Homo sapiens: one gene and its partners. The protein of the gene in region 4 purifies or fractionates together with the protein of the main gene of each other region. This does not show direct contact. Each region holds a gene or a part of one and is shown on either strand. Other genes may lie near its edges. The genes, in order: ZNF507, SLC26A6, ITIH2, SCPEP1, HHIPL1, STAP1 and C15orf39.

Region 1 (4,517 bases), on a different chromosome or scaffold from region 4:
TATTTGGTCTAATTGGCAAAGGATTCTGTGGAATAGCAGAATTCTAACTTTGCAGCCGGGCGCGGTGGCTCACGCCGGTAACCCCAGCACTTTGGGAGGCTGAGGCGGGCGGATCATGATGTCAAGAGATCGAGACCATCCTGGCCAACATGGTGAAACCCCGTCTCTACTAAAAATACAAAAAAATTAGCTGGGCATGGTGGCACGCCCTGTAGTGCCAGCTACTCGGGAGGCTGAGGCAGGAGAATCACTTGAACCTGGGAGGTGGAGGTTGCAGTGAGCCGAGATTGCGCCCCTGCACTCCAGCCTGGGGAGAGAGTGAGACTCTGACTCAAAAAAATAAAATAAAAATAAAAATAAAAATTCTAACTTTGCTGGTTTCCTAACCCCCAAATTCAGATGAATTTGAATTCTGAAATACAGTAACAGGAATTATCAGCCTGTCTGATTCTAAATTTTGTTGGATCTTCCTCCCAGGACCGTGGACAGCCCAGCCAGCTGTAAAGGCCTCTAAAAAGATCTGGAACAGATCCCCAAGAGGTATCTCACCAAATGAGTCCATTCCACTACAATGGCCAGAATCTTCAGTTTTACACCCTTGCTCATGCCCACCGCTCACCCGGAGTCCAGACCCAAGCACCATGCTGCGTAGTTCCTAATACGGCAAAACTATCCAGCATTTTTGGTGAAATTGGCTGGAATGCTTCACTTAGTCCGTTTTTCACTGTTAGCAGGAGAACCACCCTAGTATCTTTCATAGAACAGATCCGAATGACAAACACCATCGTGCCCTCGGAGGGCTGAGCTTGTGTTACTGGGTCTGGTCCTACAAACCCTGAAAATCCTGAATCTCTCAAGCAAAGAGATTCCCCAGGGCCAGCTCTGGCCCTTAACAGGCACCCCTTAACGCCAAGCTGCGAATCTGGCTAGGACCTCTATATTTTAGCCAAGAACACCTTGAAATGTACAGTCCTACCAAAGGAACTAATACAAATCCAGAAGCACAAGGCTAAAGAAAAAAAAAAAAAAAACCCCAATGCCCATTGTTGAAAGCCAATTGCGGGGTGAGTGGGGTGATAAGGCTAGCCCACAGCGGATTTAGGCGACGTGGGGAGATGCCAAAGTGAATACACGGTGACTTCTAAATCTAGACGTCTGGAAGGGGCCATGAGAGCCAGACAACTGGGCCCGAACCCCGCCCGGGAGCCAGGGTTTGCAAGGGGCTAAACCGGCTGGGGAGCCTCCCTCTCGCGGGTCCAGCCTCGGCGGCCCGGGACGCCGGTAGGCGGGGCCTGAGCCTCGCCCCGCCCCCGCTGCCCGCCATTCGGGTCACCTGACCCACCCGCGGCTCACGTGATCCGTCCCCAGCGCCGCCATTTTGGAGCTCCGGATGAGGAGGGGGAAACCGGGGGAAAAGAGGGAAAAGAGCCGGGAGAGAGGTGGGCAAGGACGAGGGCGAGGGCACGGCCGGGTCCTGGCTGGCCAAACGAGGCTCGCGGAAGCAGCAGCCGCCGCCTGACCGCAGGTACCGCGCCCCGGGGCCGCCCCTCCGCCCGCTGTTAGCGCCGCCGCCGGCCATGTGCATCCTCCCCTCAGGCCTCTGCCGGCGCTCGCTTCCTCCTCAGCCGGCCGACCCCCGCCCGGTGCTAGCCACAAGCCCCAAGTTCCGTGTCCCGGTTCTGTCTTCTGTGCAGCAAGGCCTGCGGAGACTCTGGGCTTGCCCTGCAGCTGGGGGTGGGGGGAACTTGCTGCTCCCTGCATACTGTCACCAGCCCGGCCCGCCCGCAGGCGTTGCTTCCTTCTCCAGGCGTTGCTTCTTTCTGCAAATGTGAGATCGCTTAGGCCAGCCGGGATGGACCCAGCCACGATGTTCTCACAGCATCTTTTGATTAATTTTCTAAGCTCCCTCATTCCCGACCCATCACCTCAGTCCTTTAGCCAGTGCGTGGTGTAGAAAAAGCTACTACAGAAACGCAGCCCTGGTCTTCTGCATTTATTACCATCCTCTGGAGATAGAATGATGTCTCCAGAGATCACGGAGACCATCAGGGAAAGTTCCCACCTCTTAAGACCTGGGGGCATCGGAATGAATGGTTTGTGTAGAAGGCCGGGATGATTAATAAGGTGGCGGCCACTTTCCCAACCCCAAGGCGGTATTTTTAAGTTTCTGCAGTGGGCTGTAATTTGCTATCAGTCTGCATCGCTCTTCTCAGGCAATTACTGGATTTATCACCTCTTTGAGTTTGCACTTTCTCCAGTACTCCCCTCTCACTCAGAGTATGGGTTGCATTATTGATTAAAAGAAAGCCTGGCCCTTCATTCCTTTACCTCACTAACTCGTTGAAAATTAACTTCAGGGGAGCCCTAAAGATGTTTTTTCTGCCCTGGCAGTGAGCTATTTTACTTAACCGTAATCGATAAGGTAGTTGCATTCTAGGTGAAACGAATAAGCATTTTTTTATCTTTTAGATTTATTCCAGCCAGTATAAGAAACAGTGGCAAAGAAATGTAGGACCAGAGTAGGAAACTGCGTTAGAAGATATATAGGTCACACCACTGTGTCATATCTTTTTATGCTGTTTTTCTGCCTATTGTGCTTGGTTGCAGAATCACTCGTTAGATTGTATTTTTAGTTTAGATTAAAATAGCAATGTGCAATTTATTGTTCCATTCTCATTAGAAAATGTTGTCAGTAAAACCAATAGTGTTGAGTCCAGTACCTAAATTCTGAGGTAAAACAAAATACACAATTATTGGGAGAAGTTTCCAGAGCTATTTTTTCCTAACTTCTGCAAAATCCTCAAGTCGGCTTGTTAGATAAATTATTTAAATTTGCATTACGTAATAGGGTTGCATGAACATTCCTCTGAATTTCTTTTTACATGGAATATTGAGAAATTTTTCACTGCCAAAAAAAAAATCATTACTTTGTTTCACCAAGAAAGAGAAATGTTTTGATACTATATACTTTCGTTCTTGGCCACAGCTGGATTTTGAAGATTGATCCAAGGGACTGTATTAATTTCAGGAATTGATTTGAAAGACACTGGCTCTGCCACTTAACAGCCATGTAACCTTGGGTAAGTCACTTAAACCACACTGAGTGTTTCCTTATTTATAAGACTGTATAACACCCACCTAGCCTGTCCTAAAGAGTTATGAGGATCAGATACCACTAACATGTTTGATAGAGCCTAGCTGTAAGGAGCTGTTACTCTTTTCAGTATTGATATTTTGTACATTTTTATTCTCATTGAGAATTAAGATGAAAATTGGTGTATTAGAGAAAGCATGGTTTTAGAGTGAGATTGGCCTGGATTCCTGTTCTTAAACCAGTTACCACTTTGTGTCTGTGAGTCTCAGGTTTCTCATCTGCAAAAAAAAAAAAAATACACAAAATTTGAATATTACACAAAATCTACAGAGGCATTACTCCCTAGACTTGCACCTCATGGGCAAGGATTTCCTCAGTCATTTTTGTAGTCCCCAGCATTCTGGTTGGCACATTATAGGTGCTCAATAAATGACAGTAAATCTGAATATTGGTTAATGTTAGTTAGACCTTATGTCTTCATTGCAGCTGCCAAATTAGAATATTCTCTCAGGCTATGTGCCAACTAAGAAACTCTAGACTATGAAACTCCATATACTTGTGATATTTATACTCATTTTTTTCTTAGTGGTAATTAATAATTACCTTGGGCTCAGAAGATTTTAAATCAAATAAATTGTAGCCAATATAGTGAGGTAAATCTATAAATAATGTGTAAGCAGTTTCCAGGTAACTTTATAGACAGTTTATAATTCAGGGACCTGAAAGTTCATCTAGCTTCACCCTCTTGTTTTACATCTGAGCAATCTAAAACTCACAGAGACAGTGACTTGCCTAAGGTCACACAGCTAATTGAGGGCACTTTAGGGGAGGGACCCTTGAGCTTATGTCCCCTGCCTTCTTTTGGCTGGAGCAAAATAAATTTGTCATATTTTAGAATTACAATAATCTGGAAGAATGGGGAATTTATTGGCCATTACTTTTATAGCACAATTTTTTTTTTTTTCCCATTTTGGAAAAAACAAATTCTTGTTCTGAAAGAGAAGGTTCTTTTGTATCATATTGTACTTTTCTTCATATAAACACAGAAAATTACAGCCTTTTCTCCAGGCCCACATGAATTGTTCAACTTGATTTTACTCATGATGACCATACTACTGTAATTATAAAGAACTAATTAGATACCCAAATAACCAAATAGCAAATTATAAGGAAATAAAGACAACTGAAATAATTTGGCTCCTAACTTTTTGTGAGAAAGATATTAATTAGAAGCATTTGCCTGTGGAATACTGTTGTCAAGGAAAGATTTGAGAGAGTTGGTGGAAAGGGTTATAGAACTTTTCTGGTTTGGGATACAACTTTTGTTTATTACTTATTTATTGGTAACAATTTAATATATTTAATGTTGTTATGTCTAAACATTACAAACAAGAAATCTCCTGTTTTGCTAATGCCTGTCGTC
Region 2 (4,033 bases), on a different chromosome or scaffold from region 4:
CCTGATCTGATCAGTGGGGTTACTAAGTCCTCAGTCATCCATTTATCTCCTGAGAGGTCTTGGGCCAAGTGCTAGGAACATAGGTGGGGGGCTCTGGAATAAAACAAGGCTGTTGCCTGCAACATGGGCACAGTGCAATTAGGCAGTGCGGGGAGGAATTAAGGGGTCTGAGACATGGGAGAGGATGAGGGGGCAGCCCAGCCCTTACCATGCATGCCTGGAGCCCAGCAGAGACCCGGGCTGTGACCCGAATGGGGTGGGAGCGGGGAAGGTCTGATTGATATGACAGCCTAGGAGGACCTCTGTCTGGGTGCAGAAAACAGAACACAAGGCAGGGGTTGGAAACCCAAGAGAAAGGTTAAGAGCCTGTGAAGCCTGCCTGGGTGGTGGCAGGAGAGGTGGGGAGGGAGAGGCACTGTGGGGGGATGGGGATGACACCGTCGGGCTTGTGGCCTAAGCCCCTGGGAGGGCCTGGACTGCAGCCTGGGGAGCAGAGGGCTGGGCGGTGGCAGGCACTGGGCACACTAGGGAAGGAAAGGCAGGAGAACAGGATGCAGCCAGGAGAGAGGAGATTCAGCCACCACCAGTTCTGCCTCATCCCCAGGCCAAGGAAGTCCGGGGGGTGAAGGTCTTCCGCTCCTCGGCCACCGTGTACTTTGCCAATGCTGAGTTCTACAGTGATGCGCTGAAGCAGAGGGTGAGACGGAGTCCCCAGGATGGGTGTCAGGCCCCAGCTCCCAGAGAGCTCACCAACCCTTCTCTGATGTTTGCCTCCAGTGTGGTGTGGATGTCGACTTCCTCATCTCCCAGAAGAAGAAACTGCTCAAGAAGCAGGAGCAGCTGAAGCTGAAGCAACTGCAGAAAGAGGAGAAGCTTCGGAAACAGGCAGGGCCCCTTTTGTCTGGTGACCCCCATCTCCTGCCCCCTGTTCCCTGCCCCAGCCTTTCTCCTGGCCCCCGACTCCTCCCTCGTCCTCACTCCTCATCCCTTCCCCTTTCTCCCTCATGCTCCCAGGGACCCTGCTTCACTCCCCTAGCAGGTCCGGGCTCTAGGCAGCATTTTCTCTCCCATCATCTGAACCAGTGACAGTGAGAACCGTCACAGTCCTCTTCCCTTTCACGGCTGTTCCAGGAGCTTCAGCCTGGCTGCTGCAGGTCCCACAGCTTCTGGTCCTGGCCCACCCACCTGCCCAGCACCAGGGGGCATCACCAGGCCTATGTGACATGGCTGTCATGGCAGCCGGGCTAGCTGTTTCCCATTCCCTGTCTTCCCTGGTGTAGGCTGCCTCCCCCAAGGGCGCCTCAGTTTCCATTAATGTCAACACCAGCCTTGAAGACATGAGGAGCAACAACGTTGAGGACTGCAAGATGATGGTGAGACTGGAGGTGGGAAAGGAGGTGACAGCTGTGAGCTGCAGAGATGCAGGATCCACATGTCTCATGAGGAATGCCATGGACCCAGCAGCTGTGGGCTCGAGGGTGTTGCGCCGATGGCAGGAGGAGTGGGGAGGCTGGGTCAGATATTCTTCAGGGAGCGTCGTGATATGCCACAGAATCTAGGCTTAGATTCTCAGGCCTAGATGAAGACCTTGAATTTGTAGATCCCACAAGACTTCCCCCAGAGTCTGCTCATGGGTAGAGGAAAGGGATGGGGTATATGGGAGAAAATCAAGGGGTCAAAGGCAGGCGTGGTGGTACGCGCCTGTAGTCCCAGCTCTTCGGGAGGCTAAGGCGGGAAAATCATTTGAGCCCAGGAGCTCGGGGCTGCAGTGCGCTCTAATGGTGCCTGTGAATAACCACTGCATTCAGCCTGGGCAATGAAGCGAGACCCCGTCTCTAAAAAAAAAATTGAGGGGTCAAAGAGGATGCCAAACTTAATTAGAGACTGAGACAGGGCAGGGTGCCGAGGTGTCTGCATGCGTTTCATGTGGATGCCCGTGTCTATTCTGGCCTGCTCCTGGGCCCCCTCCCCACTCAGCCCTGGCTGATGAGAATGGGACAGGGACTCCCTTCTCGTGTCCCTGTGCAGCGTCGGCCCAGGAGGTAGCAGAGCAGTATATGCACATCTGGGTGTGCCCTCCTGCATGTCCCCACACATCTGTCATTCCTGTCTTTGCACACCTATGTGACTCCCGCATGTTTGTGTCCTTATGTGTCCCATGCATGCTCCCCATCTGACCTTGCGTGTTCTCGCGTGTCTGTGTGCGGCCAGTCCTGCCTTCACTCTCTCATGGGTGGCCCTGGCAGCATGTCTGGCTCCCCAGCAGGTGAGCTCAGGAGATAAGATGGAAGATGCAACAGCCAATGGTCAAGAAGACTCCAAGGCCCCAGATGGGTCCACACTGAAGGCCCTGGGCCTGCCTCAGCCAGACTTCCACAGCCTCATCCTGGACCTGGGTGCCCTCTCCTTTGTGGACACTGTGTGCCTCAAGAGCCTGAAGAATGTAAGGACGGGGGCAGGCCAAGGCCCCTCGAGCTTCCACACTGACCCTGTAATTTGCCCTGAGAGCACTCCCAGCCTCTGACTCCCCAAACCCTCAAAGCTCCCCTTCTAAACTCCCTCCCCAAGCCTGCCCGAGCCCCCCTCTGAGTCCCTGAGCCTCCCTCTGAGGCTGGCCCCCTTTTCCGCTACAGATTTTCCATGACTTCCGGGAGATTGAGGTGGAGGTGTACATGGCGGCCTGCCACAGTGAGTAGGGTGGGAACAGCAGGAGGGACCTGGGAAGAGGGTAGGATACTTTTGGCCAAGGGGTTTTCCAAGTAGCACAAGGAAAAAGTCTTTCTCTGGAACTGGAGGTCAGAGGTGTCCTGGGAGACAGGAGTCCAGGGTTACAAGTGATGTGGATTCAGCTGTAGCCTCAGGGGTGGAGGTCAGGGGTGATGAGGTCAGGGCATTCTGTTGGCTCCCGGGAGTTGAGTTCCTAGAGGTTCTGAGAGTCAGGGGAGGCCTACTTCTTGCCCACAGGCCCTGTGGTCAGCCAGCTTGAGGCTGGGCACTTCTTCGATGCATCCATCACCAAGAAGCATCTCTTTGCCTCTGTCCATGATGCTGTCACCTTTGCCCTCCAACACCCGAGGCCTGTCCCCGACAGCCCTGTTTCGGTGAGCCTACCTCTGGCCTGCCAAGCTCTTTTTTGTTAATCTATTGCTTGTCCCCACCCTGGCCCCAGCTCCAGGGAGTCTTTCCTGGTGGCCATGGCTCTGTCCCCAGTGGGCCCAGTGCTTTCTCCGCTGTCTTTGGATAAAGCTGTTCTAGGGGCGGGGGTTGGTCTGTGTCCTTTGGAAACTGACTAGAGCCTCCCCTCCTCTGCCTGCTCAGGTCACCAGACTCTGAACATGCTACATCCTGCCCAAGACTGCACCTCTGGAGGTGCAGGGCACCCTTGAGAAGCCCCTCACCCCTAGGCCGCCTCCAGGTGCTACCCAGGAGTCCCCTCCATGTACACACACACAACTCAGGGAAGGAGGTCCTGGGACTCCAAGTTCAGCGCTCCAGGTCTGGGACAGGGCCTGCATGCAGTCAGGCTGGCAGTGGCGCGGTACAGGGAGGGAACTGGTGCATATTTTAGCCTCAGGAATAAAGATTTGTCTGCTCAACTCCAGTCTCTGCTGTGGCTTGGTGGGGCCCTGGTGGTGGGTGGTCCACAGCTGTGGCTGCTGACCCTTCCTGTGCCCTGAAGGTGAGACGGGGCAGAAGGTGTAGGAAGGACTCGGGAGGTTAGGGTACAGAGCAGGGGAGCTGTGGAGGCATCCCCTGTTAAGGTCTCTCCCCAGCCATGCATAGCCCTCACTCGCTGTCTCCTCAGATGTGAAACAGTTGGAACCAGAGCTGCTTCTCAGGAATAATTTGCTCTCAGGAATACCCGAGAAGGTACAGGGCAGCGTGGGTGCCAATGGGCAGTCCCTGGAGGATACAGAGTGAACACCTAGGAGCAGCTGTTCCCCCACACTGCTGCTCTATGCTTAAGAATAAGCATGACCGGGCCGGGCACGGTGGTTCACACCTGTAATCCCAGCACTTTGGGAAGCAGAGG
Region 3 (3,500 bases), on a different chromosome or scaffold from region 4:
AACACCCGACTTCTTGGATCTATTATTAACAGCTCACCAAACATTACATGTTCACCCACCACCCTTAAGCCATTCACTTTCAAAGGCAAGGGAATCGCCTTTGTTCATTTCCTCAGGACAGTCAAGTGTATGGATAATCTCCTAGCATGGTGGTTAAAAGCATAGAATTTTCTAGGTGCCAGTCACTGTGTTTGCCTCAGGGGTTACACTGTGGAGGAAATACATGAAAATCCCTGCTTTTATGTAGCTTAGTTTAAAGGAAGAGACAGACTTTAGTCAAATAATCCCTCAAATAGAATGAATCATTATGAAACAAGGTGAGCACTCTGCAGGAAGGAATATGCTGCTGCAAAAACACTTAGTAAAGGAAACCGACCTAGTCTTGGGGTGTTAGAGATTTTCACTGGAGGAATTCTGCTGGAGCTGAGATCTGAAGGGTGAGTAGGAGTTCTCCATATGGGGGTTGAGGAACCTAGCAGGGGCACTGCAAACAGTGGGAACAGCATGCCCACAGCCTCATGGCCGAATGGAGGATCAAAGTCTCCATTCAACTGAGTAAAAAATAGAGCAAATAGCATCAAGGGGATATACGCTACCCAGGATGCATTTGGTTGAATATTTTTATTTAAAAATTACTTGTTCTAGCATTATATCCAAGAATGACACACACGCCACCAGAACTGGTTGAGAAACTTATTGAGAAACTCACCAGTGGGAAAATAGTTTTCAAGAATATTCAATATTTATGTCTCAACTCCAGTGAATGAATAACAGCTCAGTATTGAAGAAAAATAAAATTTCTTTTTTGACTGAGAAAACGGTTTTGGCTCTCAAGGTAATAAGTGACATACAGTTGAAGAATGATTGTCTAACTTCCTTTCACAGAGAAGCCTTCCAGGAGAATCGGAAGAAATGATGGTAAGTTGACTTGATGTTGTTACAGATTGAATGATTTTCCTGTTAATAATTACCAGGAAATCAATCTGGGTGTCTCTTTTTTCTTCATCACCGAGTATTTACCTGACTTTCGAAATACTGCCTTGCCCAACTGTTTGCAAGTGTTTCTAAAATTCAGCATTGAAGAGTGCAGTCTTTACAGACAGGAGAGAGGCCACCAAGAGCTGAAGGGGCCCTTCTCTTCATTTTCTTGAGTTTTGCCATATATCATAGGTTCCTTCCCACTGTATAAATTTATGTATTTATTCCTACTCAACCTTTTTGATTTATGTATTTATTTTTACGTTTTCATTTTTATTTTTATTTTTTTGAGACAGAGTTTCACTTTTGTTGCCCAGGCTGGAGTGCAATGGCATGATCTCAGCTCACTGCAACCTCTGCCCCCTGGGTTCAAGAGATTCTCTGCCTCAGCCTCTCAAGTAGCTGGGATTACAGGCATATGTCTCCTCGCCCAGCTAATTTTTGTGTTTTTAGTAGAGATGGGGTTTCACCATGTTGGCCAGGCTGGTCTCGAACTCCTGACCTCGGGTGATCCACCTCCCTCAGCCTCCCAAAGTGCTGGGATTACAGGCATGAGCCATTGCTTCCAGCACCATTTTGATTTAAAGTATGACACCTGACAGCTTTGGAAAATAAAAGAGTGCCCGTGGAAAGGAACTTTTAAACACAAAACGGCCCAGTTCCCTGAGATGTTCAGAGTAGACCATCCTGTGGCAAGAAAACAGCCTGAGGACAAGTGGCTTATGTTGTGCTTCCTGCCCTGAATTGGCAGAAACTGCCAGAAGTGCACACTTCAGGGGGAGGAAGGACACATAGATTAGCCTGGATTTTATTTTAGCTTGAGGTGAGTTGCATGGTTAATTAGTCGAAAGGTTTAATGTTGGACTACAAAGTTTGGGGAATGAGACCTGGTATTGAGATAAGTAAATTCTTTTGGAGAAAAAAGCAAAATCTAATGGGTCTCATAGTTGTCCATAGACCTGAAGGAGCTTGCAGCTCTCAGTCACCTCCTGAAAGGTGTGGGTTTCTAGGACCTTGCCTTTGAGCACACTTACATATGTGATTCTTCACACAGGAGCTGCTTTAAATCAGTAGTGATCGGGTAAGGAGGTCCAGAGTGTTGGACCAATACTTGCATCAGAATGCCCTGTCCAAGATCAATGTCTCTTGCTTACACCCGTCACTGTTCTCCTAGCTTGTTTTGACTTGGGGGAGGAGAAAAGGACTGCAGATGAAATTGTAATAGAGGAGATTAAAGAAGGTAGAGAGCTGTAAGGGGGGGTTGGTGGAGGCCATATGTGTGTTTCCACCCCACAGCACCCCTGTGTGACCCCTACTAAAGATACAACCAAGTTCCTCTTTCAACCTCGCAATCCAGTATCCTCTCCCCAGCTGATGGTCTTGCATTTGGAGTTATTACCTGGACTTCCTCAATCCAATCTGGCTTCCCACACCGTTTTCTACTTGTATTCTAATTTTTGAAAAATCATTATTTATAGACTCATAGGGCTGAAAAATGCCTTTTAGCTCAAAGTATCTTGAAACCAAGGCAGACTTCTGCTCATTGCGGGTTCCAAGAAGTTAGGAGAATGCTTAACCATACATGAATTCTGTCCTTACCAAGGCCCTGGAATTGTTCTGCTAGTAAAACAAGTAAAATGTAGTGTTGTTAACATCAAATGCACTACATTTGATGAAGTTCTGTGTGATTTTTCTATCAGTACAGTTATGCTTTCTTGCCAATTTCAGGAAGAGGTTGATCAAGTAACTCTTTATAGCTATAAAGTCCAGTCTACTATTACTTCTCGGATGGCCACCACCATGATCCAGAGCAAAGTGGTGAACAATTCCCCGCAGCCTCAGAATGTCGTGTTTGATGTTCAGATCCCCAAAGGAGCATTCATTTCCAACTTCTCCATGTGAGTAACTTCTGTGTAGAGCCAGAAATTGTAGGTGCTCTACTCACAGAATCAAAACCCCTCATAGTTAGAATGGACTTTAGTGGTCAACTGTCCCAGAGGACCGGCTGGATGTCAAGGGTCATTGTGAGGTTGGTCCCAATAATTTTCTCCTCTTCAAAGCGTTAGAACTTGTGAATTATTTGCTTTTTGTTTCTAATAAGCTAAAGCAAACTTAAGGCTATCTCTGTGGTAACAACCTCATACTTACTTGCATTTTAATATACTTTCTAGGGAGGAGAAAAATATACTGGGTTGCCCTGGCTTATAGGAAACCACATAAGAGCGTGTGCACAGCAGGTCAATGCCATCTGCCATATGTTTCTCTATGGGAAAAAAAAAACAAGTTGAGAACCACAGATTAAATCTAATTACTTATCCAGTGCTTGACCTCCTCTATAACACCGCTGACAAGTGTGTGATGATTTCCTTGATGATAAACTCACTTTTCCCAAGGCAATCAACTCAGTGATTGACAGCTCTGTTAAGAGTCCTTTCTTATACTTCAAATATTTTCCACTTTCTACCCAATGACTCTAGTGATAATCACATAGAATTTTTAAAAAGCTCTCTACAAAATACATA
Region 4 (4,033 bases):
CCCAACCTGTCCTATTTGCCTCTTAGTTTCTTTTTTCTCTGAAGCCCTCAGAGCCCATAGAACTGCCCCCAACACCGAGCTGTGGTTCAGAATCCTGCCTTTCCCTCTCCCATGGATGCTCACAGTATCAAACTCTCCCTGCCCTGGGACTTTAGAAACTGCTGCATTATATCCACAGAATCTGCTTGATCAAACTGCTTCTAAGTCTGGGTCCCTTATCAATCCACAGGGACTCTGAAGAGTCTCCCATCTCCTGGGGAGAGGGTGATGGAGGAAGAGTCAGAAGGCCCAGTGTCTAGTCCGGTTAGAGCTCCTTCAGGTCAGCAAGGCCTACGGCAGGCCAAGGCTCCAGCTCAGAAAATCAGGAGGCAGCTGGGTGTGATGGCTCACACCTGTAATCCCAGCACTTTGGGAGGCTGAGGCGGGAGGATTGCTTGAGCCCAGGAGTTTGAGACCAGCCTGGGCAACATGGTGAAACCTCACCTCTACAAAAAATACAAAAATTAGCCGGGCTGGGCATGGTGGTGTGCGCCTATAGTTCCAACTACTTGAGGGGGCTGAGGCGGGAGGATCACTTGAACCCCAGAGGTAGAAGCTGTGGTGAGCCGAGATTGCACCACTGCACTCCAACCTGGGTGACAAAGTTAGACTCTGTCTGAAAAGAAAAGAAAAGAAAAGAAAAAATCAGGAGTCAGGAACATTCCATTGTGGACCTCTTAGCTCAGCTCTGCTCCTTTCAGAGAAAAACCTCAGCAGTTACTAGGGGAGCTTTGCTAATGTGGAAGTCCCTGGTTCACTAGAGAAATTGTGTCTTTTGTGCAAATTGACCCAGCCATCACTAACTCATAAACCATCTATAGCAAATGTGGTCATTCATTGTAAAGACTAAGATCTGACTAAAATTTTTGTTTGTTTCTTCTCTCTTCCATAGGGCGGTCCAGGCGGTTCTAGCACTGGATTTGGAAACTTTGAGGAAATTGGGCCCCTTGACAGTGATCTCAAACCACGGAAAACCACCTGGGTACAGTGAGGACAGTCCTGAGCTAAACCTTGCCCCGTGGCCTCTCAGAGGCCCTGCCCAACTCTGGGAGGGGCCACAAATGTAGCAATCCCTCGCTGTCCTTTTCCTTTTCCTGTGACTACTGAGGCCATGGGCACTTGTCCGCAGGCTTCCTCTCTGGCCTAGCTTCTCTCCCATTTCTCAGGACAGCTTATCTTGCACCAGTCTGCCTCGCCTTCTCCAAAACAACCCCTCTCTCCAGCTGCCTTCAAAAACCTACTACAGCAGACACCTGGGACCCTGTGTTATGCACGCTGGCCATCTCCGCGGCCTCAGACACCATGGTTGCACCCTCCAGCCACAGCCCCCAGTCCTTTTCTCTCTCTCCTATCCTCCTACTTGTATCTTGACTTCCCCTTTCAATGTCTCTCTTGCTGCCCTTCTCACACCTCCCCCTCATTCTTATCGTCTCTTCCTTCCCTCACCCCTCTGTGGTCAACTCCCATATCCTTCTCCCTTTACAGCCTTGCCAAACCCAGCCTTGGGTCACTCCCACTGTCCACCTGCTTAGCCCTTACGCCCAGGCTGCCCATGGGCAGAACTGCACACCCACCCTGGGGCTGCTGCACAGCGTGGGCCCCACTCAGGGCTTGTGGCTGTTCCTCTCTCTGTGCTCCCACTCTCCCGGCTGCACCTATTGCTATGAATGTTCTCCACTTTCCTCAGTGCTCCTCCTCCAGCCTCCCTCTCGCATTAGAAGCTAAGCTTTCTGCTCTTTTTTTTTTTTTTTGGAAATGGAATGTCCCTCCGTCACCAAGGCTAGAGTGCAGTGGCACGATCTCAGCTCACTGCAACCTCTGCCTCCTGGATTCAAGCGATTCTCCTGCCTCAGCCTCCCGAGTAGCTGGGATTATAGGCATGCGCCAGCACGCCCGGCTAATTTTTGTATTTTTAGGAGAGACGGGGTTTTACCATGCTGGTCAGGCTGGTCTTAAACTCTTGACCTCGTGATCCACCTGCCTCAGCTTCCCAAAGTGCTGGGATTACAGGTGTGAGCCACTGTGCCCGGCCACTTTCTGGTCTTTCTTTGTTTTTTTTTTTCTGTTTTTTTGTTTTTGAGACAGAGTCTCGCTCTTTCGCCCAGGCCAGAGTGCAGTGGCGCTATCTCGGCTCGCTGCAAGCTCCGCCTCCCGGGTTCACACCATTCTCCTGCCTCAGCCTCCTGAGTAGCTGGGACTACAGGCGCCCGCCACTGCGCCTGGCTAATTTTTTGTATTTTTAGTAGAGGTGGGATTTCACCATGTTAGCCAGGATGGTCTCGATCTCCTGACCTCGTGATCCTCCCACCTCAGCCTCCCAAAGTGCTGGGATTACAGGCGTGAGCCACCGTGCGCGGCCTCTGGTCTTTCTTAAGTGCTTCCTACTCTTGCCTCAGGGTCTTTGTACATGCTGTCCTCTTGGCCTGGGCCTTTCCTGTGCTTGGTTCCAACAGAAGTCTCACTTCCAGGAGTGGTTGTAGAGTCATCCCCTACCTCCACTCCCCACCCCCATTGTCCCCAAGCCTCCTAGAACTAAAAGGGCCATATGAGTGAGGACCATGGTCCCAGTCCTGATGCTGCCACTGCCTGTCCGATCTTGTGACCTTAGGCACATTCTGGGCTCTTTCTGGGCTTTAATTTCCTCATCAGCAAGGGACATGGCTGGACTGTGTCATTATTCAGGATCTTTTATATGTAAATTTTATAACTTTCAACCTCTTTGGAAAAGGTATTAGAATAAATTCTGCTCTTGCAGTGTACAGAGAAGCCAGGACAATGTGGAAATTTGATGCATTTCCAAGAAAACTGATGTGTGTCCAGACTTTGAGTGTCCTCTGGCTTCTTCGAGTTAGTGCATAGACTGTCTCTGCATGCTTCTTTCTGCGCTAGTTTATTACATTTAGTACATTTGTATTGTATGAAAAGCAACAGCCCAGATTATTTGATCCCCGTGTGTGTTAATCTTTCCTTCCTGCCTCTCCCTTTTTTTTTTTTTGCGGCGGCGGGGGCGGTTGGCCTTTCTTTGTTTTTGTTTTTTTTTCTATGTTCCTGTCCCTTATTTTTAAAAATCTCTTTTAGCAACAGGGATATCATCACCACGCTGGTATCCTCACATGTGTGGGTTTTGCTGAGCTAGTAGAAAATGATCCAAAGATGATTGGTGACCAAATGTCTGATTGCAACATTTCGTTTTCCTCCGTGGTACATAGCTCCAGGCTGCCAGTCTCCTATTTGTGGATAATCCCGTGGGCACTGGGTTCAGTTATGTGAATGGTAGTGGTGCCTATGCCAAGGACCTGGCTATGGTGGCTTCAGACATGATGGTTCTCCTGAAGACCTTCTTCAGTTGCCACAAAGAATTCCAGGTAAGCAAAGACTCAGGAACAGCTAAGTAAAGGGCTGGCAATATCAACTCTACATCCATCAGCATAAACCTGAACTGCCTCCAGAGTTTAATGCCTAGCTGATTTCAGAGAAAACTTTTTAATTCCCAAGATTGGGTTGTGGACTTTTGTTTCTGTCATCTCTAAAGTTGATATTTAACTTGAAAGAATGACCTTGGAGTGAGCATTCTAATCAGACGCAATAATCAGATATGGAGTGGTGGGGGAGGAAGACAAAGCAGATTTGTTTTTTCTGGTCATTACGTGCAATAGAAATTTGAAATTAATTTGTGTGACTCAAAAAGCAATCAAGGTAGTTAATTCTGTGTAATTCCTTTTCTTGCTAGACAGTTCCATTCTACATTTTCTCAGAGTCCTATGGAGGAAAAATGGCAGCTGGCATTGGTCTAGAGCTTTATAAGGTAATGGAAAATAACTTTGTTGTTATGGTTTTGGACAGAAAATCAATTATGTTACTTTTATGTACTCACGTGCTATTAAATATACTTTGAATAGGGCCATGTACATGCAGAGTACGATTAAATCTGTAGTAATAACCATAAAAAGTTTTTAAAAGAAGAATGAAGATTGCCCTGCTAGATCTGGAACAA
Region 5 (4,754 bases), on a different chromosome or scaffold from region 4:
AGGGTGAGGATTTATGTTACTCTGGCTGGGGCTGGGCTGTGTTTGACATTTTCTGTGGCTGTAGGAGCCCAAACCTCATGGCTGTGGCCCAGGCTCTGTGTCACTTCCACCTCTGTACACTCATCTGGAGCCCTGTGTTGATGTGTGACTATCACCCAGTTCTGAGTCCCAGCTGGGAAGTAGGCGCCATCGTGCCCTCCGATTCCATCCTGGCTCTGCCTATTCCCAGCTGTCTGTGCAGGAAGCCGTTGCAGGCCGCATTTCCCACCCTAGCAGCCCTCTGCTAGGTTCAGCCAATGAAAGCCACAGGTGGGAGTTGGAGGGGAAGTGGCAGGGAGAAGCCGGGGTATTTCTCCTCCTCTGTCTGTGCAGAATCTCTGACAGTGGCTATCTCCAGCTGTGGCCAGACAGGCCTTGTGAGGGTCCAGCTTTGACAAGGTGACCATAGCTCCTTGGCTCCAGTAACATCTGCTCTTCCTGCATCAAGGACCTGGGGACTGTTCCTACTGTTGCTGATCTCAAGGTTACTTCACTGAGCCCTGTATGGCTTCTTAGCCTCTTTGGCTTCAAGTCCCTGCGTTAAATTCCCCGTGTTTCAAATACTCAGAGATGTTTGGCTGTGCGGAGACCCTGACTCTTACACTGCACCTGTTCAGGCCAGAGCCACAGACCTCTGAGTGCTCCAGCCCTGCCGCATCTCATCCACCCCCAGCTCTGCCAGGAGCATGGGCCCAAAGACAGAAACATGATCCCCCAGGACAGTCCAAAGAGACCTGCAGAGGACGGATGTGTGCGTTGGGGCCATGAAGATGGAGTAGGAGCTCACTGGACAGAGAAGATGGGGAAGGACACTCCAGGGAGAAGCAAACGCTGAGGTCCACTTGAGAAAAATGCCTGGGTGGTTTTGGTGCTGTGAGATTCTAGGGTAGGTGAGACAGTGTGTGTGTGTTTGTCTGTGTGGGTGGTTTTGGTGCCATGAGATTCTGGGGTAGGTAAGACAGCGTGTGTGCGTCTGTATGTGTGTGGGGGGGTGGGGCGGGGTTGGGTCTGAATCTCCAGCGGGGGCAGCGGAACAAAGGGCTGGATGCCCATCCCAGGAGGTAGATTCATCAGTGCTCCCTATGCGAGAGTGGAAGTGGGGAGCCCCAGTGGGTCCTGGGCTGCAGGAGAATCCGCTGCCCCAGGAGCAGAGACTGGGAAGAAGCCCACAGTAAGGGCAAAGGGTGGACTGCGGAGACTGCTCCGTCCTCCCTCCCCACCCCTACGCCAGGTTTCACTTCTCCCTGAGAGTCCTGGGGCAACACCCCCTGTTCTTTCCCTCGCACCCCCATTTTTAAAATGTTACGTGGGAGCTTTCGGGGACGGGCTGCGGGCATCCGTTTCCCTAGCCCAGTGGGAGGTGGAACCGAAGCCCAGGAGTCCAGGCCTCTGGCCCTGCGCCTCCCTGGCTAAAGAGCGCCCTGTGGGGAGGAAGCAGGGCCCCAGGCGGAACCGGGAAAACACACCGGGGCTTTAAACAGACCGGGCCACTCCCATCGAATTTGGAAAGCGGTTAAAAGAGGTCGTGCCGCATTCTGCGCCGCGTCCCTCTTCCTTCAGTCCCGCCGAGTGTCCCCGACCAGAGGTGACCTCCTAGAAGGGGAGGTCCCCAAACTCGAGGCCCTGCGTGTAGGGAAGGGGAGCGCCCGCCCCTTCCCTGCCGCCGCGAGCGCCCCGGGAGGGGACCGGGGCTGCCGTCCCTCCGCCTCTTCCCCCGCGGGGCGTAGCGATGGCCCGGGCCAGGGCCGGGGCGCTGCTGGCGCTTTGGGTGCTCGGGGCCGCCGCGCATCCGCAGTGCCTGGACTTCAGGCCGCCCTTCCGGCCGACGCAGCCGCTGCGCCTCTGCGCGCAGTACTCGGACTTCGGCTGCTGCGATGAGGGGCGCGACGCCGAGCTGACCCGCCGCTTCTGGGCCCTGGCGAGCCGCGTGGACGCCGCCGAGTGGGCCGCGTGCGCCGGCTACGCGAGGGACCTGCTGTGCCAGGTGAGCGGGCGCGCGGCCACCGGGCGGGGCGGGGCGCGGGAGGCCGAGTCCTGGAGCAGAGATCGGAACCCCGCGGGGGCGAGGGCCAAGAGTGGGCGGCGGACTCGGGAACTCTAAGCCCCAACAGGGAGTCATTTGGCACGGGGCGGGGAGACCGCGCATCCCAGGACGACTCTTGGCTTTGCCATTCATTAGTTTTGTGACTTGGGCCTTCTCGGGGCCTCAGTTTCCCCTCCTGAAGCAGGAAGGACGGACGGACGGACAGATGATGTCATCATTTCCTCAGAGGTTGGGGGCTCTTCTGCCCCAGTCCCCTGGAGTCGACCCCTCAGCGTCCCACCCCGAGCAGCTGCACCCTTGTCGGGGTACCAAGGTGGAGAGGCATCTGTCCCGGTCAGTGCTCCTTTGTGTTGTCCCCGGGGCAGTGAAAGCAGGGGGCCCTGGCGTGGGCGTGGTCAACGTGTGGCCCGGGTTTGTTGAGGGGGTTGGGGCCACTGTCCCCCACGAGCGTCTCACCCCCATCCTGATGCCCTTGCCACTTCCGCCACCACCTCTGTGGGTGCTGTGCCCTCTCCTGGGGATGGCGCCCTGGCCTGCAGAAGCTCTCTCAAGACTGAGCGACAGCTCTTTGTTGAAGCCCCTGGGCCCCCCATCTTCCCTCTGAGGGTGGAGCCCCTGCTTCTGTGCACACCTGGTGGTGCCACCGCTATTTGTTTTCCTCTTGTGGGAGTCTGAGGCCCCAGGGCCTGACCACACCCAAGTGGGCAAATGTTGCCTGGCTGAATGCAGAAATGGAGCAGGACGGGCAGCCCCAAGGCATTCCTGCCTCAGCATCTGGGCAGTGAGAGGCCTGGGGTGGAGAGGCCCCAGGGGCCAGGGCCGTGTCCCAGCCTTCGGCCAGCAGGGGCAGGTGGTGTGGGGAAGGGCAAGAAGGCTGACTTGGAGTTGGAGTTTGATCCTGGCTCTGTCACTTCCCCAGCTTCGTGACCTGGGCAGGTCACTGCTGCACCTCACAATATCTTTAAAATGAAGCTGAGTATGGTGGCTTATGCCTGTAATCCCAGCACTTTGGGAGGCCAAGGTGGGCAGATCACTTGAGGTCAGGAGTTCGAGACCAGCCTGGCCAACATGGCGAAACTCCATCTCTACAAAAATACAAAAATTAACTGGGCATGTTGGGGAGCTCCTGTAATCCCAGCTACTCGGGAGGCTGAGGCAGGAGAAGCACTTGACTCTGGGAGGCAGAGGTTGCAGTGAGCCAAGATTGAGCCACTGCACCCCAGCCTGGGCAACAGAGCAAGACTCCGTCTCAAAAATATAATATAATATAATATGATATGATATGATATGATATGATATGATATGATATGATATAATATAATATAATATAATATAATATGATATAATATGATACATAAAATAAATAAAATAAAACCTTAACCACCCCCCTGGGTGGCCATGCAGATTAAATGCCACATACTAGGGGCTCGGTAAGTGTTTGCAGTTGGATTTCTCGAGGGCTTCCTTGGCCCTCACTGGCTGCCCAGCCCTGGGAAGGGTCCAGGTGAGGCTTGGAGCCCGAATCAAGGAAGACTCAGAGGCAGGCAGGGACTTGCCCAGTGGTCGCACAGCCCAGCGGTGGTTGAGGTGGGGACATGGACCACACTCGCTGAAGCGAGCTCATATCTTAGGTGGGAAGCAGTAGACTCTGGGAGGATGAGGAGGGGGCCCTGGGGAGCTCCAGAATGCAACAGAGGGTGGGCTGGCCACCTTTAGGTGGGCTCTGCTGGACTCCCATGCTGTACACCTCAAGGGCACGGGAATGGTCTGGCCAAGCGTCTGCCTCCCTCACCAGCCTGGGGGCTCCTCAGGACCAGGTCCTTTGGTCTCCCTACCCCCATCACATAGCAGAGTTCCTGCATCCATGCCACATTTGTCTATTGAGCACTTGCTATGTGCCAGGCTCAGCACGGCAGTGAGGTGGGCAGGTGGATGGAGGAAGGGAAGGGTCAGTCCTGATGCTGTCCCCTGGCAGGTTTCTTGGGAAACTTCCCAGGACAGCCTGGCTTTAAGCAACCAGCAGTTAGCAGGAGTGACCACTAACACTTCAGCCCAGGCGTCTCTGAGAGTGACCTCATGTCTGGAGTGAGCTTAGAGACGGCGGCTGAGGCTGGGTTATGGTTTCACTGACGGGGCCTCCTGGAGCATGCTGGCGGGAGGACCATGCTCTCTGCTAGCCAAGGCAGAGTCTGCATTTGGCACCTCCTGATTTCCACACGGGGAGGTGGTGGAGGTGCCTTATTCATAGGTCTCTGTCAGTGTGGAGGCACTCAGGCCTTCACACCTGCTTTGGGGGGATGGGAGACTCTTTCCTGAGGCTTTGCTTGTCCAGTAAGTGCCTGTGTCCTCTGGAGGAGAGAGGACAGCCATGGCACGTGGCATCCCCAGTGCATCTGGTGTGAGCTTCCACATCGCTAACCTCCCCTGTGACTGGGGTTGCCTCTCTAAGCCACTAAAATCATCAAAGCATGGTTTCTGATGGAGATCTCCATGAAATGTATTCTATGGGCTCATGTATTCAGCAGGCTCTTCCTGAGCCTGTTAGGAGGCAGCCCTGTGCTGGATGCTGGGCCCAAAAACAGTTGGCAAGTCACAGGCCCAGTCTCAAAAATCCCCTTCATCACTTCAGGAGACTGACACACACAGGAAGGTGCCAGAAATTCCTCAAGGA
Region 6 (4,644 bases), on a different chromosome or scaffold from region 4:
CACAAGGCCCTGCTTGGTGTTCTACCCCACTGTGGCCAAACTGGTTCCCAAGCTGCAAGACAAAGTCTCCTTTACTCTTCCCTTTCCTTTCCTTAAGCAAAAGTCTCTCCCTATGGCCACCACAGCTAGGAATGTGCTGGGTCATACCTGAAGCCAGCACAGCTCTGGGTCTCAACCCAAGGCCCACAGCAAGTACTGCTTGGCTACTGTTGATGTTTATTCAAGGCTCAAGCATGCTTTAGTCAGTAGGTGATGAATACTGCCAGGACTGAGTCCTTCCCTTCAAAGCAGTAGATTCCCTTCTGGCCCAGGGCGTGTCTAGAAATGCCCAGAAGCTAGGGCCTGAAATGGAGGCCTCATGACTCTGCCTGATGCCCTGTTCTACTGTGGGTGAGCTGCTTTCCAACTGAGTTGCTTTCCAAGTTTATGCTCCCCTCTTCTCTACTCAAGCAGAAAGGAGGAGTCTTTCCTGGAGTTGTGCTGCCTGAGATTGGGGGAGGGGTGCCACAAGCACTCCCCTGGTCACCCCAGCTGGTGTCTCACTAGGTCATGTGCACTACATGTCCACTGGCTCCAAGCCCAGCACAGCACAGGACTTGCCCAGGACCCTCAGTGTTTGTGGCCTAAACTGCCTTTCAAATTTATTTCGAACCCTAGATCACTTTAGCCTGTGGTGTTGAGACTAGTCAGAGCTCAGATTCTGCCCACTGGGATGGATGATTTCTCTCTGGCAAGAGCTGGTCTAAATGCTCCCTTCTGTGGTCCTGGCTGAATTCTGCCCTGTGTTGCTTTCTACTGTGACAAGTAGCACTGAGTTACAATGCAAAGTGCCACAGTCACTGTCTACTTCTTTTCCTAAGCACACAGATTCTCTCTCTGCACGAGCAGCCACTGCTGGGAGATGGGGGAAGAGACCAGGTTGGCAATTCAAGACTATTTTTCCTACCCTCTTCAGTGTCTCTTTCCTTGCTATGATGTTAAAACCAAGTACTGTAATTGCTCACCGGATTTTTGGTTCTTATTAAGGTGCTTTCTAGTGTAGACAGTTGTTTAATTTGGTGTTCCTGTGGTGGTGGGGGCTGATAGCTGGAGGGTTCTATTTGGCCATCTTGCTCCACCTCCTCTCTCCATTGGGTTTTTATAGCTTTTCTTTGTTGAGAACATCTATCTTTATATTCATTTCAAGAATGTTTATGACCACCTCATGAAGCATAGCTGCTTTAAGGTCTTCATCTGATAATTTCAACATCTTGGTTATCTTAGTGTTGGCATCCATTGTCTTTTCCCTTGAAAACTGGGGAATTGGTCAAATTCCTTCTTTTGTATATCAAGTAATTCCTGGTTTTTCATATATCAAGTAATTCTGAATTGTGTCTTGGACATTTTGAATATTATGTTGTGAGCCTCTGGGTCCTGTTAAAATTCTCTGGTGCATTTTTTAAAAGCAGGCAACCATCTTGATTAGATTGAACCAGTTCTCTCTTACTTTCTGTGGGAAGCCATTCCAATATTGGTTCAGTTTTCAAAGCTTCTGTTATGCTGTTTTGGGTCTGTATTCAGCCTGGGACTTGGTTGTGGTTTATGCCTTAGTTTAGCTGTCAACGCCTTTGCCATCTGTTTTGTATCTGGTTCTGTGCATGCACAATTCAGAGGTGAGCCTGGAATTTGTGTCACTTCATACACAGAACTAGGAAATAACTCTTTTCCAGCTGTCACCTCTCTGGGATTTCTCCATACTCTCGAGCCGCCAAGGGTCCTTTTTCCTGGTGTTCTAGCTAGAATGATGGAGCTTATTAATGACACCTGTGCTGTAATTGCAGTTCTGTGAGACTGCAGTTGCCCAATCTCTCCAAGAAAGTTAGAGATAAGAAAGAGAAAAATGTAATTCCAATTCTCCCCTCTGCCCACCTTTCCTGATTTCTCTGGCTGGAAGGCTAAATTTTCTCTTGGGGTTTTAGGTGCCCATGCTGTCACTGCCAAAGTACTGCACCTTGACTAGGGGCCCCACCCTCAGGGCAGGGCCAGGGAAGAAAAAATAGACAATACAAAAAAAAAAAAAAAGCACCTTAAGGATTTTAGAAACAGACAACCAGATTGCTATTGGTATATGACTGAATGTGTTCAGTTTGCTTTGTGGTCGGGAACAAACTACTCAGCCTCCCCCTGCATTTCAGATGCCTTTGTTATAGGGACTGGGGAATGACATAAGAACAGATGGAATTAGAGGGTCCTGTGAAGAAAGACTTTAAATAATTAGAATATTATCTGTAGTGTAACGTATTTTCTTTCAAAAGCAGAAAAATGATGGAAAAGTACATGACAATGAAAATAGGACTTTTTAAGAAAAGCTACACAAAGATAAAAACTTATCTTGACAAATAATGCTGATATTTTAAGAAAACTTTGTGGAACCCTAACATTGCTTCAGGAATTTGGACTCATAGCTGGCTGTGGCACAGTGAGACTGCTAGTACATCAAACTTGGGAAATGGGAGTTGTAGAGCAGGTAAGGGTTCCAATCTGGAGATTTGGAAAAAGCTAATATGTAATAAAATATTATCTAAAAGAAAATAAGATTTTTTTGATCCCTGTTAACCCATGTCAGCATTTGGCTCTCTCTTACACCAGAAGACAAGAGCAATAATGGAACAAGAATGGTCAAAGATATTTCCCAACTCCAGAAATTAGCAGTTTAAACTAAAAGCCGCTTCAAAATATAAGGCCTATTAAGCTAAAGAGGAAGAAAAAAATTATTAGGTACAAAGTTACAGGTCCAGGATAAAATAAAATTTAAAAAAGCATCTGAATATTCAGTATTTATTTTCCTAACAATTACTAAACACACCAGCAATGTTCCACACACGAGCAGGAAAATCAACTCACTGAAAATAAAGAACCACCGTTTTCTACAATATTGGTTCGCTAATTAAGTTTTTCTACCCACAATTTCTAGGTCAAGAACCCAGTATGGAAGGGAGAAGTGAAAAGTTGAAGAAAAATCCACACATTGCATGAAATACAATGTGAAAGCTCCTTTGTATATCTTGGTAATTTATATTTTCAAAACGAAGTTCTTACTTTTAAAGAGAATTACCTATATTCTCCTGATACTGATTACCAAGTCATTCACCTGAACACCAGAATTAGAATTAAACATTGTACCATACAATTTCATTATCTTATCAGAATGAAACCAATTCACAGGGAAACTAGAGACTACGGCTGTGGTGGTAACCTGCAGATATACACATTCCCATGCACTGACATAAGTTGAAAACACATAGTACTTTCTAGATGGAATTTTTTTCTTTAGGCCTCAATGAAATACATTTCCCCTATATAATTCCAACAGCAGTTTCTCTAGTTCTAAATTTTACCAATTCCCAAAAAACCTAAGTTTTGCTGAAATCTGATTTGACCAATTTATCAAATATGTCATTTTAATTACCTAGCTGGAAGTTAGAGACATGAAATGTACTAGAGGAGCCCTTTTCCAATGGAAATATTATATACCACATTTTTTGTTAATGGAAATAAATGTCTTCATTCCCATGTTTTTCCCTGGTGTCATCTTTTTGCCACTCAAAATCAGCCCATTATTTCCTTACAAAGATGGTGAAAGGCTGTATCATCATCTTGTCGTAAGTACGATGAGCCTGATTATAAGTACCTGGAGTTCTTAAAAATATGGAACCATCAGCCCCAGACTGCATCTACTGAATCAAAATAACAGGGATATTTTTTCATAATTTTTTTCTTCAAAAGCAAACTTCTAAATTGATTTTGATGGTTATCAATTTGGGAATCACACAATCAACTAAGAATGAAAAGATATGGTCTATATTCTACAGGGGAAAGACTATGTGAGACAGAGGGAGAAAACAGCCATTGACAACTCAAGGAGAGAGGCCTCGGGGGGAAAAAAAGATCAACCTGGCCAAAACCTTGAAAATCCGGCTTCTTGACTTGTGAGAAAATAAATTTGTGTTCCTTAATCCACATGGTCTGTGGTATTTGTAATGACAATCCTACCGAACTAATTCAGTGAGCTTCCTGGGATGCCTGAAAATATGAAGAGTTCTCTCAGACTTACTGAATTATAATTTTGGGGGTGGGGGGGCGGCGCTGAGGCTGGTCCAGAAATCTGCCTTTTAAGCATACAACACAGGTAATTGCTATACATAACAAATTTGAGAACCAGTTCTTTAAGATCTACTATAATATGAAGATAAATAATCTGTGTAGCAATATATGCAAAATCAAGTCAGGCTTTCTTTTAAATGGAGAGGCAGTGACAATTAATAAGGAATCATAAATATGACAAATGAAAACATTGAGAAATGCTTTTCTCTATGTCATTTTGATCTTTTAATTTCTGGAGTGTGAAAATACTTTATTAAATTTCAAATGAGATTGTATTTTAGTTTAAACCTGACAAAAAAGTGTATAATAAATATGACCCAATGTTTACTTTTTGTCTAAAAAAAAAATTGGGACATAAAGCCTGAGCATTAATGTTAAGTATTTATTGAAATGTATTGAGTATTTATATAAATCACTGTTAATGTAAAAATTATAAAAGCAGCACATATGTATTATTCTCAAGGGTTTTACAATTGAGTTGGTCAAAATATAGGTAGATGA
Region 7 (4,623 bases), on a different chromosome or scaffold from region 4:
TCTCAGATGGCTGCTCATCCTGGCCTGGTTGGGTCCCATTCCAACTCAGGGAAATTGGAGAGACCACTGGGCACATCTGAGCACACAACCTGAGCGTCCTAGACCCCAAGGGCTAAGAACACAGCCCTCCTTCCACCCCACTAGCAGGGCAGGGACAGGGTCGCCGGCGCGGTGCTGGAGGAGGAGGGGCGAGCAGAGTTGGTAAGGGGCAAGAGCAGTGAATAGCCTGTGACCCACGGGGCTGCAGGCTGGGGTTAAGGGTATGATGTTTGGTGTGACCCCTAGCTGTCCGCGCGCAGATGTATTTTCCTGACGCTAAGGTGTGGCTGCAGGAAGGGCCCCAGGCTGGGAGCCAGGAGATCTGGGATTTTGTCCCAGCCTGCTGAGTGACCTGGGGAAAGCCCCAACCCTCTCTGAGTGTCTCTCCCTATATGGTTCCCGACTCTATTTCTAAGGTCCTTCCAGCTCTAAATGAAGTGACACTCTCCCCCCACCTCCCGCCCCCGCTCCCCAGGTGACCTCACTTCCTCTTCCTACCTGCAGCGCCCAGCCCCTCCTCCTCAGCTCCAGCTGCTCCAGCTGCTTGGTGATTCTTGGAACCTGCAGCCTCAGGCCTGCTCTGCTCTGACTCAGGCAGAACTTACCTTTGGGATCTGAGGGGATAGTTTTGCTTCCTGAACTGACTCTGACCTTTGGCATGTCCACCTGCCCTCCCCTTCCCCACTGCACACACCTGTTCCCAGTCCTCGGGCAGCCCAGGAGCTTTGACGGACCAGATTCCTTCAGATAAAGTAGCAGCACTGAGGGGCTCTCATCCACAGTCAGATGGTCCAGGGAGAGGCACCCCTTCCCCCCTCCAGCCTCTCTTTGCAACACACCATTCCTGGCTGGGCGTGCTCCACTCCACCCGCCTCACAGGCTGCGCGCCGGTCTGCCTCATGGAGGGAGCCTCACCCAGGCTACTTTGCAAATCCCCCAGCACCCTCATTCCCGGCCCTTCCAGGGATGGGGAGATTGCCGCTTCCTCAGACAGTTGCCGTGCCCTAGCAGGAGTCTGGAAATTGCCCTCATTGACTACAACGAAATGAGGGGACAGATCAAGGAGCCCTTCTCCAGCCCCCTAATACACTAGTGCTGGACAGGGGAATGCCGGCACCTACTGTGTGCCAGATATTTGCAAACACCCTTTTCCAAGCTTACACCGCCACCGCTATGAGGAAGACAGAATTCCACTTTTGCAAATAAGGAAACTGAAGCTCAGCGAGGTCAAGCGGCAGGCGCAAGGTCACATCGCAGCAAGTGGCAGTGAATGAACGATCTAAGGGAGCGACTGAGGGCGCGTGACGGGCCCGCCGGGCACTGGTTCGTGGAGCGTGGCGGTTACGGGCGGTGCACAGCGCCCGCAGCCCGCTCCTAGCGAGCTGGCCCCACGCGGGCCCTCCGCACCCGCTGCCCACAGGAGCGCAGGCTCCCAGAGGCGGGGCCGGGCTCTTCCCCAACCCTGCGAGTCGCCCCGCCCCCGCCCCGCCCCCAGCCCGCCCCGCCCGGGACCGCAGACGGCGCCCAGCGGCGGCGCGAACGGCAGCTAGGAGGGTTGCTCCGGGCTTGGTGCTCACTGCGACTTCCCGCGCAGGGCCCGGTCGGACTAGGACCCGCGGCCTGAGAGACGCTGGAGGATGCGGACGCGGAGGCCGCCTGGGGTAGCGGCGGCGGGAGTCCTGGCGCTCTGCAGGTAGGAGCTCGCCCGCTCGGCGGGCGCGGAAACTTGGGCCGAGTTTGCGGGCGGCGCGTGGAGAAGGGGCGGGTGGCGCTGCCCCAGGGCGCCCCTACCGGCCGGCCCGGGGACTGAGGGAGCCGCGCCTGGGCCGAGGGGCTGCGGCTTCTGGCTGCCGCCGGCCCCCCGCGAACGGGCTGCGGGGCAGGGGTGGCGCTGCTGCTCCGACTTTCCCCGGACTTCGAGGCTCCCGGGACCTGGTAGCGCTCTGGGTCTCCGGCGGAGAACAGGCGCCTAATCTGGCGAGAAGGAACTCAGGCCGAGCCCTCCGGCCTCCCGCAGGACCCTGTCACGTGGATTGCTGGGGGATGGCGTTGAGGAGGAGGTATGGGGACAAGGGGGCACTGGAGGGCTGGGCCTGGGGGCGCCGGGCGCTGAGGCACCGCGGGGCCCTGGACGCGCCCTGCTGGGATGGGACGGCCCTGCGGTTTTCTCGCCACCTCTTGACTCACCCCTCTGGCCTCAGCCCAGGCTGGCAGGATCGCCCTGAGGCGGAGGCTGCCCGGACCCTGTCGCCGGGCCGCCCCTGTTCCGGGACCTCCCGCCGGTCCGCGGGCGTCGGTGTGGGGCTGGGTGCGCGGGCCTGCCTGCGTGCACACGTATGCCCGGGGCCCGAGCGAGGGGAGAGCGCAGTTCTGGAATGGCGTGTGTGCAGATGTGGGCCATGCACGTACGTGCAGGCACGGGTTTGCATGCGTGGCGGCGGCCTGTGTGTCAGCCTGCTGGATGCACGTGCGTCTCGGCGCCGCCGGGAGGGGCTTGGGGACACCCGGAAGCCCGCCAGGTCGGGTGCGGCGGCAGCCTCTAAGCGAAATCGGCTGTGGGCCCTAGGCACCCGAGTTATGTTCAGGGCGGGTAGGGGAAAGGGGATAGAGACCGATCCCGTTCGCTTTCCCCTCCACTGGAGACTTTGGGCTGCCCCAGGTTGGGTTGTAGCGTCTGGAGAGCCCAGAGCCTCAGGTAGGGAAGGTGGGAGATGGGAGAACACTCGGCGAGGCCCGATCCAGCCCTCCGGGAGAATCCAGATGCTGGCCACAATTGGGCAGGAATCGCGCTCTTCTTCCTGGTCTTTGCCATCGGCCATCCCGAGGCCCCTAGAAGGTGAAAGTGGGAACAGAGAGCTGTTTCCTTTCCCACTGCGTAAGGCAGGGGCGGTGCTGCGGTGGTGGGCTCTTCTCCGGGACCCTGGCCTGGGTGCTGGCTGAGTGACGTTGGAGCTTGGCAGAGAGGATCAACAGAGCTGCCTCTCAAGGATGATCTGAGCCTGCTCCCTGGGCACCTGCCCTTTCCGAGAGCTTGCTTGCCTCAGTATGGGTCAGGGAAGGAGGCACCTACATTTTGGCAACTGTCTTGAGTGGAGGAGTCGTCTCCCTTGAGAGAGTGTATCCTGGGCTTTCCACCTCCTACTGGCAGGAGATCAGGTCATTCCCACACCCCTAAGAGTTCTCTGTTGGCTCCCTGAAGCCGCCACCCCTCCCACAAAGACTCCTGAGGGTCCCAGGTGGTTTCCTGTCTATTGACTGGGTCCCAGATAGGGGCCTCAAGAAGTCTCCAGAGCAAAGGGTATTCCATGGGCTGAGACCCAGGAGAGAGGGACTCCTGGGGTGGGGGTGGGGACCCAGCAGACCCCAAGAAGCATGTGGGGGAGGTGAGACCAAAGTCAGTACTTAACCCAGAGTGTCCCAAGGGTGGAGGTGGGGAGGATCCACACTTCAAAACCCTACAGTTCCTTCTCACAGCATTGCTGTGGAGTGAGATGGGGGCTTTCACCCCTCGATAGCAGGTTTCTATCATAGGACACTGCTGTTGGGACTGTCACCTGTGTCCTAATGGCCCCTCTGTGTCTTCTCTAGGCTGGCCTGAGGTGTGGGGTTCTGTCCAGGAGATGAACCAGCTTGCTTTCTGGGTCTGCCTTGGTGGAAGTGGGCATTGGCCCCCACACTAGCCTTGTGTTTTCTAACCCCAAAATGTGCCGGTCTAACTCAGCCTGTGGCTGTCATTGGCTCCAACCAGAAGAGGCAAGGAGAGGGCTGGTCCTTGCTTGCCAGTCACTGAAACCTGTGACACTTTGCCCTAATCATAGCAAGATTGAGCTAGGTGGTCCTTTCTAAGCTACTGAGAGTTTCCAGGAATAGGGTGCTGGCTGGGGGAGGTAGAGGTAGGTCAGTGTGGCCCCAGAAGACAGGCTTCAGATGAGCCCCTAACGGGTTACTGGGTGCCTGCTGCCCTGAGGGGCCTCAGTCCCCATCCTTCCTTGGTCTTGTCTTAGAGCTTTGTCTTTTTTCAGCACATAGTTTTTCCATCAATACAATGGGAGTAGTGGCTAAGTAGCACTCTGGCCCCTGGGGCCTCCCTCCCTGGACTTTTTTCTTTTCTTTTCTTTTCTTTTTTTTTGTTTTGTTTTTTGTTTTTTGTGTTTTTTTGAGGTGGAGTCTCACTCTGCTGCCCAGGCTGGAAGTGCAGTAGCACAATCTTGGCTCACTGCAACCTCTGCCTCCTGAGTTCACGCAATTCTCCTGCCTCAGCCTTCAGCGTAGCTGGGATTACAGGCATGCACAACCATGCCTGGCTAATTTTTTTGTATTTTTAGTAGAGACAGCGTTTCACCATGTTGGTCAGGTTGGTCTTGAACTCCTGACCTCAAATGATCCGCACACCTCGGCTTCCCAAAGTGCTGGGATTACAGGTGTGAGCCACAGCACCTAGCCACCTCCCTGGACTTTCACACACGCCCCTGACGCTGTCTTGGCCCCACCCTGCCATGTGCCTAGGAATCGCCATCTGCAGCTTGGGGGCTGGGGGTGGATCCAGGCTCCTCATGCTCTGGGACCTTCCTGCTGGTGCTGCAG

What was found.
Region 1: the proteins of SCPEP1 (region 4) and ZNF507 purify together in Homo sapiens (affinity purification with mass spectrometry; one large-scale study listed by BioGRID and IntAct). This does not show direct contact.
Region 2: the proteins of SCPEP1 (region 4) and SLC26A6 purify together in Homo sapiens (affinity purification with mass spectrometry; one large-scale study listed by BioGRID and IntAct). This does not show direct contact.
Region 3: the proteins of SCPEP1 (region 4) and ITIH2 purify together in Homo sapiens (affinity purification with mass spectrometry; one large-scale study listed by BioGRID and IntAct). This does not show direct contact.
Region 5: the proteins of SCPEP1 (region 4) and HHIPL1 purify together in Homo sapiens (co-immunoprecipitation; one large-scale study listed by IntAct). This does not show direct contact.
Region 6: the proteins of SCPEP1 (region 4) and STAP1 purify together in Homo sapiens (affinity purification with mass spectrometry; one large-scale study listed by BioGRID and IntAct). This does not show direct contact.
Region 7: the proteins of SCPEP1 (region 4) and C15orf39 purify together in Homo sapiens (affinity purification with mass spectrometry; one large-scale study listed by BioGRID and IntAct). This does not show direct contact.

What each region holds. Positions count from the first base shown.
Region 1 is NC_000019.10:32,344,259-32,348,775, forward strand, and holds the start of ZNF507 (zinc finger protein 507), read left to right. Parts: upstream 1-1,351; 5' UTR 1,352-1,525; intron 1,526-2,986; 5' UTR 2,987-3,080; intron 3,081-3,226; exon of another isoform or gene 3,227-3,372; intron 3,373-4,517. UniProt on the Homo sapiens protein: May be involved in transcriptional regulation.
Region 2 is NC_000003.12:48,625,286-48,629,318, reverse strand, and holds the end of SLC26A6 (solute carrier family 26 member 6), read left to right. Parts: intron 1-604; coding exon 605-697; intron 698-777; coding exon 778-885; coding exon of another isoform or gene 886-904; intron 905-1,280; coding exon 1,281-1,373; intron 1,374-2,246; coding exon of another isoform or gene 2,247-2,263; coding exon 2,264-2,443; intron 2,444-2,633; coding exon 2,634-2,688; intron 2,689-2,964; coding exon 2,965-3,101; intron 3,102-3,318; coding exon 3,319-3,333; 3' UTR 3,334-3,596; downstream 3,597-4,033. UniProt on the Homo sapiens protein: Apical membrane anion-exchanger with wide epithelial distribution that plays a role as a component of the pH buffering system for maintaining acid-base homeostasis.
Region 3 is NC_000010.11:7,706,316-7,709,815, forward strand, and holds part of ITIH2 (inter-alpha-trypsin inhibitor heavy chain H2 precursor), read left to right. Parts: intron 1-885; coding exon 886-918; intron 919-2,706; coding exon 2,707-2,876; intron 2,877-3,500. UniProt on the Homo sapiens protein: May act as a carrier of hyaluronan in serum or as a binding protein between hyaluronan and other matrix protein, including those on cell surfaces in tissues to regulate the localization, synthesis and degradation of hyaluronan which are essential to cells undergoing biological processes.
Region 4 is NC_000017.11:56,984,447-56,988,479, forward strand, and holds part of SCPEP1 (retinoid-inducible serine carboxypeptidase precursor), read left to right. Parts: intron 1-931; coding exon 932-1,021; intron 1,022-3,248; coding exon 3,249-3,404; intron 3,405-3,769; coding exon 3,770-3,844; intron 3,845-4,033. UniProt on the Homo sapiens protein: May be involved in vascular wall and kidney homeostasis.
Region 5 is NC_000014.9:99,643,440-99,648,193, forward strand, and holds the start of HHIPL1 (HHIP-like protein 1 isoform a precursor), read left to right. Parts: upstream 1-1,689; 5' UTR 1,690-1,768; coding exon 1,769-2,023; intron 2,024-2,249; exon of another isoform or gene 2,250-2,416; intron 2,417-4,754.
Region 6 is NC_000004.12:67,603,343-67,607,986, forward strand, and holds the end of STAP1 (signal-transducing adaptor protein 1), read left to right. Parts: intron 1-2,953; coding exon 2,954-3,015; 3' UTR 3,016-3,995; downstream 3,996-4,644. UniProt on the Homo sapiens protein: In BCR signaling, appears to function as a docking protein acting downstream of TEC and participates in a positive feedback loop by increasing the activity of TEC.
Region 7 is NC_000015.10:75,200,328-75,204,950, forward strand, and holds the start of C15orf39 (uncharacterized protein C15orf39), read left to right. Parts: upstream 1-1,554; 5' UTR 1,555-1,732; intron 1,733-4,623.